Linked DNA regions of Homo sapiens. The protein of the gene in region 1 interacts with the protein of each later gene in a biochemical or structural test. Each region holds a gene or a part of one and is shown on either strand. Other genes may lie near its edges. The genes, in order: MPDZ and OR2AG1.

What was found.
Region 2: the proteins of MPDZ (region 1) and OR2AG1 form a complex in vitro, tested with the Homo sapiens proteins (one study listed by IntAct).

What each region holds. Positions count from the first base shown.
Region 1 is NC_000009.12:13,108,515-13,115,820, forward strand, and holds part of MPDZ (multiple PDZ domain protein), read right to left. Parts: intron 6,821-7,306; coding exon 6,734-6,820; intron 5,508-6,733; coding exon 5,417-5,507; intron 4,541-5,416; coding exon 4,497-4,540; intron 3,633-4,496; coding exon 3,510-3,632; intron 2,227-3,509; coding exon 2,122-2,226; intron 1,551-2,121; coding exon 1,438-1,550; intron 546-1,437; coding exon 422-545; intron 1-421. UniProt on the Homo sapiens protein: Member of the NMDAR signaling complex that may play a role in control of AMPAR potentiation and synaptic plasticity in excitatory synapses. Promotes clustering of HT2RC at the cell surface.
Region 2 is NC_000011.10:6,787,899-6,792,274, forward strand, and holds the end of OR2AG1 (olfactory receptor 2AG1), read left to right. Parts: 3' UTR 1-3,660; downstream 3,661-4,376. UniProt on the Homo sapiens protein: Odorant receptor.

The DNA.
Region 1 (7,306 bases):
CATGTGTACTTTATGTACTTCTCTATAACTATTTTATATTTCACAACAAAAAAATGCAAACAGAAATACCAGTGCTCTACAGCATACTTATTTAAAATGTCCCATTTTCAAAAGACGATCATGTGCAATTTGTGTTCAAAGAAAAAAAAATAGGCTTTACTAACCAAAGTTCATTAATATTTTTATGTATATTGTTGAGTTTCCATGGAGTTTCAATTTGAGCCTATTTTCCTTTAAATATAATGAAACCTCAAATTGGACAAAAATATTTAATGACCTGTTCCTGTAGGGAGTTTTGAAAAGAAATGATCAACTGTTAACCATTTGGCATTACCTCAGGCCATAAACTAATAAGCCAGCTGCTGACCACTATTAATGAATGTTTAGGGGAAAAGAGGGTGGTTAAAATTTGCAAGCTTACCTTTGCAAACACTGTTTTAACATAAATGGGTAAGTCTCCATGAGGGCTGCCATATCCTCCAACTATACTGAAGCCTAAGCCATCTGGTCCTCGCTCTAGTGTAATAGACTTACATTGAGGAGGTCTACGGTGAAGGAAAGGAAAAAGAGGTTTTAAATTAAAAAAAAAAAACTATACATATATGTTATGAATTATCTGACATCCACCTAGAGCTAGCATAATTCTCTTTGTTACTGACAAGGAGTATATTACGGGTATTTTTGAGATGCTTAAATTGTCAGTGCATGCTGTGCTTGGTATTTTAAATTTACATAATCTAATGAAATCCTACTTAACACCCTAATTCTATTACTCATTTACAGTTCCCTTAAACTAACATATTCATGGCATGTTCTCATTGTACAGAGAAGCTCATTCTTTTTCCAGTTTATTTAAAGTGAGAGGGCTAAAGTTCAGGGGACTATATTAGAATAAGTCATAAACATCAGTACGCCCAAGCTCAGAGAGAAAAATCAATTATAAGCAATGGAAAAGCTGCATCAAATTATTTAAAATTTCTAATGCGCCTCTCTCTTCTCCTCTGTTTTCCAATGCTTTTGTATCCAAGTATTGTTACTTAATACTGTGAATTTTTTCAGTCCAAATGATAATATATTAGATGAATAGGCAGTGCGGGAAATTTTAAAATGATAGATTTGACTTGCTCCATATTACATGAAGTGGTAACATCAAGACTAAAATGTCCTCCGCCCCAAAATCAGAGCTGAAACCATGGGAAGGGTAGTAGCACGCATATCTATCTAGCTAGTTATCTATCTCTACTTATCTTTGATCAGCTAAATCCATGCCACAATTATTTAAGTTTAGAAGCACCTGATATGTATAATTCACACTTCATATATCCTATCATTTTACCTGTACGTAATTCCTAGAAACATGGGACAGAGAACGCAACTGTCAGGAAGACTTGATTCATAAGTGAAAAATGATACACTAATCATCATGTATGAACTCACCCTAAATCATCCTGAAATATACTGCTTGACGTCAGCCCAGTGAAAGAAAGACTGGAACTTGCAGGCTCCTGCTGATGACCTGTGACCACACTCACGTCTCCTCCAGCAACCACCTGCGCACAGGAGGAGGATAAACAGAAAAAACACATGTTCCTGTGGCTAGGGAAAGTAATTTTTCTTCAGAAAGAGCACTTGGATTAAAATGTATATTTTATTGTTCATTTAAACATTTCTGTTAACATAAAATACAACCAAAGAGAATGAAATTTCACAAGGTCCAGAGGCTCTTAACTGTCCTGACAGTAAACATATTCTTCTAATTCTATTCTACAAAGTTCTTTGATGTTTTTAAAATGTGGTCTCATATGTAATTACTTTTTAAAGATCTTTAGAATATAAGCCACTTGCTAGCACCACTTAAAATTCCAGCAAATAATCATGTACTGCTAAGGCCTGGATTTTTTTCCCCTTAAAGTATAAAACAATCAATGCATCAGAGTAAAATGTTACAAAATATGTCTCATATGCACTTTATTGGAACTCTTAATTTAATCATTTATGTTCAAGAGAAATATTAAATAAAATAATAGCAGAAGATTTAATCATTTTTACTGCTTTAACATCAAAGCTCATGTGTCTTCAGGCTACCTATATTCTGAATTATGCTTGGGATAAAAATCTTACCTGCATTTCAATGGAGCCAGATGCATTTTTCAGTAGGTTAACTGCTTGGGTGTGAGTCATGCCCTCAGTGGATGTGCCACAGATGGTGACAATCCTATCCCCAACCTGCAAGGGAGAGAAAGAAACAGCCATCTGCTAAAGCAGCCATGGAGAGTGGGTCTTTGAGACCTAAGTATTCATTTCCTTCTCCACCTTCCACATGACATATATACTGCTACCAGCCACTGAAATATAACCAAGGAAACCACTAATTCCAAGAAGTCCAAAAAGCAGCAACCACAAAAAGAAGCAGTGCATAATGGTTGAGTTCCATATCCAGGGGAGAGGGAGGGAGAAGGAGAAAGTCACTCTTCCCTGCTCTTCATTTCTCTTGGGTGAGACATTACTTCCTATTAAAAGAAAAAAAAATTCACTATCATTTGGAAACTGAAATTTCTCTGGACATTACTATTATAATCATTAGATGTGACTCTAAGTCGGAGGTTGGCAAACTAAGGCCCAGAGGCCAAATTTGGCCCACTGCCTGTTTTGGTTAATAAAGTCTGGTTGGAAGACAGCCATGCTTATTTGGCTGCTTTCACAGCGCAGAGTTGAGTAGTTGCAACAGAGACTCACAGGTCCCACAAAGCCTAAAATATTCAGTATCTGTCCTTCCAGAAGTTTACTGACCCTGTGCTATGTATACAATCAGGTTTTAAGTGTCAGCCATAAATTTGGATATCAAACGAGGCTGAACCATTCCCAGCCTAAAGACTATTTAAACTAAAATGTGGTTATGTTCTGAGACCTATTTGAGGTATGAAACCATAGAGATTTTGCTTTAGAGAGACTGAGTTGCGTTAATGGAATATTCATGTAATTTTTAGAGCTGGGCAGTTGGCATAAATTCCATTGCAATGCTCCACAATTTGGATAATCCCTCAGCTTTGAGGCAAGTTGCATATAGTTTTATAACATTGTAAGTCATATTTATATTAAACTTCTGCAAAATTATCAGTGAATGCAAATAAGTAATACTTTTCAATTTAACAGAGTTAAATCGGCGTTTAAACCAATCAAATATATAAGATAAAAATTTCACTTCATACTGGTGTTCTGAAAATACTTTCTGTTCTCTTTTAGCTTGTTCCACAGAATTTCAACATATAAAAATATGTATTAGGAAACAACTATAAATCTTCCTATTTAACTGCAAATCTGCATTTTCTCCTTTCTTTTAATATTCTTTATCTTTTATTCCAAGCAAGCCTTGCTGTGGTTGGATTAGATGATTTAAAAGTAAATATAGATATTTAAAACTGCCTTGCAACAGGTAGCCAGGTTCAAAGGTTTATAAAAACACTTCTGCACATTTTGCTAGGGCTTCTAGGGTTGATAGTACGACTCACTCTGAGTTTTTGGGTCTGTGCTGCAACTCCAGTTGGGTGCATCATTGCAATAAATATAGGCACATCACCAAGTGGGCTGCCTACTCCTCCAGCGATGCTGATTCCCAGTGAGTCAGTAGGGCCCTGCCATGGAACAGATATAAAATTTTGGTCAAAGTGATATTTTTCATTGACCTTTTGTTTATTCTTTGGCATGATATCTATAGTCAACTCTGATTTTCTAAGTGTGAGGGGGAAAATGAAGAAGTGCAAGAAAACTGCATTACTTTACTTGACACAGGTGCTTAGCGTGGCTTAGGAAAATAAGCATCTGTTCAGGAAGTAAAATAAATCAAGACATGCTAAATGAAAATCATGTTGTGGAACTGATGAAAAGCAGGTAAACTCATGAAGTGAAAAGACCACACTTTTGGAATCAGAGTCCTGTGTTCAAAGCCACGAAGTCATACTTGCAAATGCTGGAACTTGGAATAAGTCCACTCCACTCAATAAATCATTAGATCTTCATTTACAAAATGGAGACAACAGTGCCTCTCACAGAGGGCTGCAGTGAATATTAAATGACATGATGATGACATGAAGTGTCTATAAGAGTGCTCAGAACAATAGTAAAAGCTCAATAAATCACAGCTGCTTTTACTTTGTCTCTTGTGCATGGCTGTCAAGGGAATCTGTTTCAGAACTAATAAGTATCTGTTGAAGAGAAAGGTTTACTTATAAGAAGTGAGAGGCATGGTATTATTTTGTGTGGGGTCAATTTTATGCTATTTTCAGCAAAACAGAGCATGCAAACAACGATTTTTCAAATGAGGTGCTGTGATCAGGAAATTCATTAAGGACTACATTATGTTATTTCACATGTAATATGTAAGAATACATACTTTTTGAGATGAATACTTTAAAACCGTAAGAAAGTTAACAAGAAAACACATATGAAGATGTCTCTTAAAACGCCAGGGTTTATATTGTTTTCTCTCCCCAAGTTACCTTTTTCATTTCGACTGTTCTTAATCCCTGTATTTCAGATGCCACTGTAAAGGCAAAAAAGATAAAATAGGGTTATTTTATGTTCATTCACTTTTTATGTTCGTTAAAATATCTAAAGCTGGATGGGACTAAATGATAACCTAGGTTTCTTTTTTTAAGGGGGTGCTCAAAGCTGCTAGTACACATGATTAGATCTGTCTTACACAGAACTATTTATTTTTCCAGTTGGAAAAACGTGTATACCATCCCATTCTTCCTTCTCATTTTAAGTGTTGATTATATAACTATGTAATCCACTTTGAATGAGTCAAGGGCAGAATGTGTTTTGCATAGAAAGGCACATGTGCACGGCTGAGAGGAATAAAGTCATGGATGCATTAAAAAAATTCACAAATTTAAGTGCCTAAATTTCTAGAATATTAGTCATACTGCAAACAGAGATTGCCATATTGTTAGTTTCTTCAATTTGAACAACTCTCAACCAATGCACCAAGCCAAAAATCCCTCTGCAGCATGATTTCACGTAATTAAAACACAGGAGGATCACATTAATTTTCTCAAATTTTTGCAATCTTCATGGAAAAAGAAGGCTTCACTTAATGGCATCTTCTGATTTACTGGTGTTACATTAAACACAGAAAAGGAATAAAATCAAAAACACCAATCTGCTTAGTAAGAAAAAAAAATTACAGAATCCTGATTATAATGTTTAGTGTATCTTGTAGGGTAAACATCAAATGGGAAAAGCTGCCATAGGCAGAACTTCATGTTGTTCAGACTTTTTGCTAACACGTGTTTTTGTACCTATATTTGGATATGGGATGATTTGGGGGAAAAGAAAGCTCAGAGGTAAACAAGACAAAAAAATCAGTGTTGACAGCCAAATTCAAACCATGTTTAAAATACTGAACCAATCTTACATGCATTCTTCTTTGAGCTACTTTCCAGTGACTCAGATGTACTGGATCCAGAGAGTGGAAAAGTGAAAGATGACAGGCTGCCTTCACTCACCTACAAATATACAACAATTATTTCAGAAGGTTTTGCAAGTAACATACTCCCTAAATACCACTTATTTCAGAATTTAATCTAGAGACAGATACCTGTTAAGCAACAGTGGCATTTGATAATTTGATGAGCAATTTAAACACAGTTCCTACTGATTTTTTTTCTTTTAAACAGAGAATGTGTCTAGTGACATAAATAAATTGAAGCTAAAAGGGTAGATGAAATTGATTCCAATCTACCTAAAATTTTAGTGGATAGTCATAATCTCATTCAAACTAATCTTCTTTAAATTTAAACTGATGTTGTAGGAAGACTAGGACTTAAACAAAAACTGTAGAATTAGGGCCAGCTAATAGGAAACTCATGGTAGTAATTTAGAAAGTTAGTATGGGGTCTTTAAGGACAGACTGATGAAAATGGGTTTCCATCATCAGTAGACAACACTGAGGAGAAGGTCAAGAGGTCTTGTCAAGAGTCTTGAAATATTTAACATCATATTTTTATACATGGTGCTGAGTATCTATAGTTCACTTATATGGGACTTTTCAGTTGAATATTGATTGATGTTGCTATAAAATATTTTTAAAATATGTTATCTTGGGGCCAGGTACGGTGGCTCATGCCTGTAATCCCAACACTTTGGGAGGCTGAGGCGGGTGGATCACGAGGTCAGGCGTTTGAGACCAGCCTGGCTGACATGGCGAAACCCCATCTCTAATAAAAATACAAAAATTAGCCAGGCATGGTGGTGCACGCCTGTAGTCCCAGCTACTCGGGAAGTAGAGACAGAAGAATCTACTTCGCCCGGGAGGCGAAGGTTGCAGTGAGCTGAGATTGTGCCACTGCACTCCAGCCTGGGTGACAGAGCGAGACTCTGTCTCAAAATAAATAAATAAATAAATAAAATAAATAAAATAATAAAAAATTTGTTATCTTGGTAGGCTTTACAATTAGGTAGTTACCTTTTGAGATTATGGAAAATGAATCATGTCAAAAAAGAATGCTTGAAATCAATTTCCTTAGAATGACTTACAAACTACTCAACAGCCACACCTTGTTTACCTGGCTATTCTGATTCCTTGTTCTTCTCTGTCTCAAACTCTGCACCTCAGTCACTATCCCACGCTGCCAGGGGACCAGACCTTGTACACAGACCCACAGTCAGGGCCATCTATGTGTCCTCTTGGCATGCCGATTGCATCGCCCTGATGAACTCCACAGCTACCCACCTGGCTGCTTTGAGATGGCCTCCTCTCTGAATGGAATGGACCAGCTTTGATTCTTCCAACTTCCAAGGTTACTGTGCCTAGGGAACACTGGGGGTGGGCATGGGGGGTGTTTTATGGAAATGTTTAAATAAAATGCTATAATCATCTTTAGGAATACATTTTACTCTTCAAGACTTTTTTGAAAGGCATCTTCCTTTTGGAATTTCTATAAGCAAGGATACCTCCAATCCCTTGTGGAAAATGGCTTTTTATAAAACATTCAAACTAATAAAAATAATCAGCAGCAGCAACACCAAGTGTTTACCTTATCACCTCATGATTTCTATGGAGACTACTTGTACCAAAAAGAAATGGAGAATTGAGCAATTATCTCATGAAACACACTAATTTTGATAGGACAAACAAGCTGAATAACTGAGGGTTTAAAAAACAAAGCGACTGTAATCCCACCACTTTGGGAGGCCGAGGCGGGTGGATCACGAGGTCAGGAGATCAAGACCATCCTGGCTAACATGGTGAAACCCTGTCTCTACTAAAAATACAAAAAAATAGCTGGGCGTGGTGGCAGGCGCC
Region 2 (4,376 bases), on another chromosome or scaffold:
CTACATATTTTTTCATGTTAAATTTTACATATAAGTAGTCTTCACTAATTGATAAGGTATAAAATTTGCCTATTTTAATTTGCTTAAGTAACTTGTCCACAGTTTTCTTATTGATTTGTTGAAGTTTTTTTACAGGTTAGGAACACGGAGACTTTGTTATATTTGTGGTAATAACTTCTTTTCAATTTGTTATTTGGCTTCTAATATCTGCATGGCAGAGATTTTTAGAAAGAGAAATATTTAAAATATTTGTATAGTGAAGGATATCTTTTATTTTTTTTTCCAGTGATTTTTACTGTTAGGATATAATTTTCTATTCTCATTGACGTCTTTGCTGTGCATCATACAGTTCAATTTAGGTAACAATTTATATATTTTATGTGTTTTGTCACTCTATATGTTTAACTTTAACAATAAATGTCAAACTTATCTTTACATGTGAAAATGATGATATTTCAACTTTTGTCAAAGGTACCATTTTTCTAGCAATATTTTAAAGTAATCCTTTCATTTTCTATTATTTTACTACCTTCATCAGACATGTTCTAGTAAGCTATATTTTGGCTAACTCTTCAGTTCTAGCTTCTTTCTCCTCTTTACTCTTTTGGAAGACATTTGATTCTATCATTCACATCTTAATAGCTCACTTGTAATTTGATTGTGAATATATTTAACTGATAAATTAATTTGTAATTTGAGCATTTTTTACAATACTCAGCCTTGCCTTCCTGAACATGGTGCATGACTATACTTCTGGAACCTAGTCTCAGTCAGTTTTAAAATGAACATTCCACACCATCATTCTAAGCTGATGCCTTGCCTCACACTTCACTAGAACAGAAGCAGTTGGCTACAAAGCCCTCTTCAAATCCTCCACATATCTGTGCCTGCGTGTACACTTCCTGTTTTCCCTCATTATAACTGCTTGAACCCGGGAGGCAGAGACTGCAGTGAGCCGAGATTGCACCACTGCACTCCAGCCTGGGCAACAGAGTGAGATTCTGTCACAAAATAAATAAATAAATAAATAAATAAATAAATAAATAAATAAATAAAGTAAGAAGTCTTTGCATGACTCCAATCCCCCTCAGTAACTGTAGCATTATTTTCAGCTTCTCTTCACAGGAAAAAAAAAAAATACAAAGGGAACACTTATGCCCATTTTCTCCTCTGCTGATCTTCTATTCGCATCTTAACACACTTTCAATCAAGCTCTGGTCTCTTTCTATGGACCTGTTCTTTGTGAAAATTATCATTAATGTGCTAAATAAAATGTCTACCTCCATATTCTCCTTCATCAACCTTTCAGCAACATTGATATAATTGACCTCACCCTTCTGTTGGGAAATTTTTCTTCTTTTGGCTTCCAGACACCACACAACTCTGGCTTGCTTCTTTAATCCCTAACCTTTTTTGCCTTATTGGATTCGTTTTTCTTTCTGAATGTTTCCACATTCAGATGATACAAACATGGACTTCCCTGTCTTCTCAATCAAGAATCTCTTCCTGAGTAATTTCATCCACTTACATAGATTTAAGTTCTGTCCATATGCTTTTGAGTCCCAAAGACCTCACTACTTGTATAATCCACAGACTCAAAAAATTAGCCGGGTGTGATGGTGGATGCCTGTAATTCCAGCTACACAGGAGGCTGAGGCAGGAGAATCGCTTGAACCTGGGAGGAGGAGGTTGCAGTGAGGCAAGATCGCGCCATTGCACTCCAGCTTGGGCAACAAGAGCGAAACCCCATCTCAGAAAACAAACAAACAAACAAACAAAAAAACAAAAAACAACGAGATATCACGTCTTGCCTGTTAGTATTATTTTTGAAAACCAAAAAAGTCAAAGCAAAACAAGTGTTGGTAGGTATGGGGAGAAAATGGAACCTGTGTACACAATTCATGGGAATGTAAAATGGTACAGCCATTATGGAAAACAGTATGGAGGTCTAAAGATTCAAACTATTACTACTGTATGATCCAAGATTCCCACTTCTGACTATATATCCAAAGGTAATTAAATCGCTGTTTCCAAGACATATTTGCACTCCATGTTTATTGCAGCATGATTCACAATAGACAAAATATTGGAAACAACCTAAGAGTCTATCAACAGACCAATGGATAAAGAAAATGTGGTCTATTTATACAATAGAATATTATTTACCCTTAAAAGGGAAGGACACTCTGTCATTTGCAATGAAATAGACCAACCTGGAGGACATTATGCTATGTGGAATAAGCCCAACACAGAAATACAAATGCTGTCTAATTTTGCTTAATGCGGAAGCTAGAAAAGAGTCTAACTCAGTAATAGAGAGTACAGTGGTGTTTGCCAAGGGTTTGGGGTGACTGTGGGAGGAAATGAAAAATATTAGTCAACAGATACAAACTTTTATTTTTAAGATGAATAATTTCTGAGGTTCCAACATATAGCATGGTGACTGAAGTTAATAAAAATGTGTACTTGAAATTTGCTGCAGAAGTAGATGTCACGTGTTCTCACAACACACACGCACAGAGGGTAAGTATGTAAGGTGATTGATATGTTGCTCTGTTAATTAGCTTGCATGTGGTCATCATTTCACAGGGTATACGTATATCAAATCATCACACTGTATACCTTAAATACATTCTAGTCATATTTGTCAACCATATCTCAATAAAGTTGGAAAAAAAAGAAAACTATGGGCAAATTATACATAATAATAAACATAAAAAATCATTTGAAAACATTTCTAAAGCTGCTTTGTCTTCATTATAGGAATGTAAAATATTACCTCTGCTGGAATATGAACTACACCCAGGATTTGAATAGTACAAATTAGATGAGACGACTTGCAGTGTAGAGCCCTCTAGGCTTTCAGCCTAGAACAGGAAGGAACGCAGAGTAATGACAGCAAACAGTGAAGCTATAGGATAATAATTCCTCCTCAGTGACAAGAGGCCCCACCACTGCTTTGGACTCCAGGAAGCACTCAGACATTAACATCTGTGAAGTGTGCCCTGCATGCTAAGAAAAGGGTGAACTGACAGACCCTTCTGTCCATCAAGTCATCCACAGCCTAGTTATTTCTGTCTCTGCTGCTAATTGTGCCAAAAGTAACCATAAAATCTGGAGTCAACTGCTAGAAGTTTTGCAAGAACAAAGGCCAAGGAGATGCACTTGTGTCTTGGTGAGTAGCCAAAGTTAGCTGCAGGGAGCTGAAGCAAGGGACTGAAAAAATGAGAAGTCTTAGAAAATGTTCTCCAGTCCTTGAGGATCTGAAGGCCTATGTGTGACTGATATTTGGTGGAGAAGAACGGACCTAGCTCTTTCCCCACTCCAACCAACCAAAATCTTTGTTGAAAGGCATATTGTGTATTGTCACTAATTCTGGGAAGGCGGGGGCCATTGGTTTTCATGAAGTGTGACTATGAAACATGAAAATCACACAAGGCAATCTTGATCTGAGGAATGCTTCTAAGAGAAAATGAATACACCTGCCCTATAGGCCCGCTTCTCTACCAAGCACACGGAGATGTCCACTTATTCTTGCTGGCACCAAATGGTGATATTCAAAAGAGCTGGCATAATTTTTTAGAGTTGCTAAGTATATAAAGCACTAACTTTATCAATTTTGTTAATTATACTTCACTTCATCTCTGTCTTATCAATTAGCTAAATAAAAACAGCATCAATTCATGAATATCATGATAATAAAAAAATTCAGGTAAATATTCAAAAAAGTCAAGTGTTAGCTGTACATATTATTGTAACTATAAAGGAAGGGAAAATATATCTTTATTTTATGAAAGCCAGTAAAATAAATCAAACTTCTCTTAAAATATTTGGTAAGGAAAAACTAACAACGTGTTTCTTTTTAAAATAAACTTCTAAATTTTGGAACAATATTAGGCTTACAGAAAAATTGCAAAGATGCTAAAGAGAGTTTTTCACACACCCATCTCTCAGTTTGTTTCTTCTAATATATTCATCCTTCATTAGCATACATACTTGTCAAAATAAGAAACCAAAATTGATACATCACTGTTAAACTATTCAGATTTTGCCATTTTATTCAGATTTTATTATCTTTTCTGTTAGTATTACTTTATGTTCCAGGGTCCAATCCAATATACCGTACTCCATATAGGTATCTTGTCTCTTTGACAAGCTTTGATCTGATATTTCTCAGTCTTTACTTGTTCATAACTGTAAGGGTTTTTTAATGAAGGGAAATAGGGTTTACAGAGCTGCAGAACAATTGTTATTTTTAAAATGCTGTTTATCAAGAAGGATTTTTGTTTCCTGATCCTGGTCAATGTGATGTTTTAGCAAACAGTGAAATACACTGGCTTATTAGTCTCAAATAAAAATTGTTAATCACAATCTAG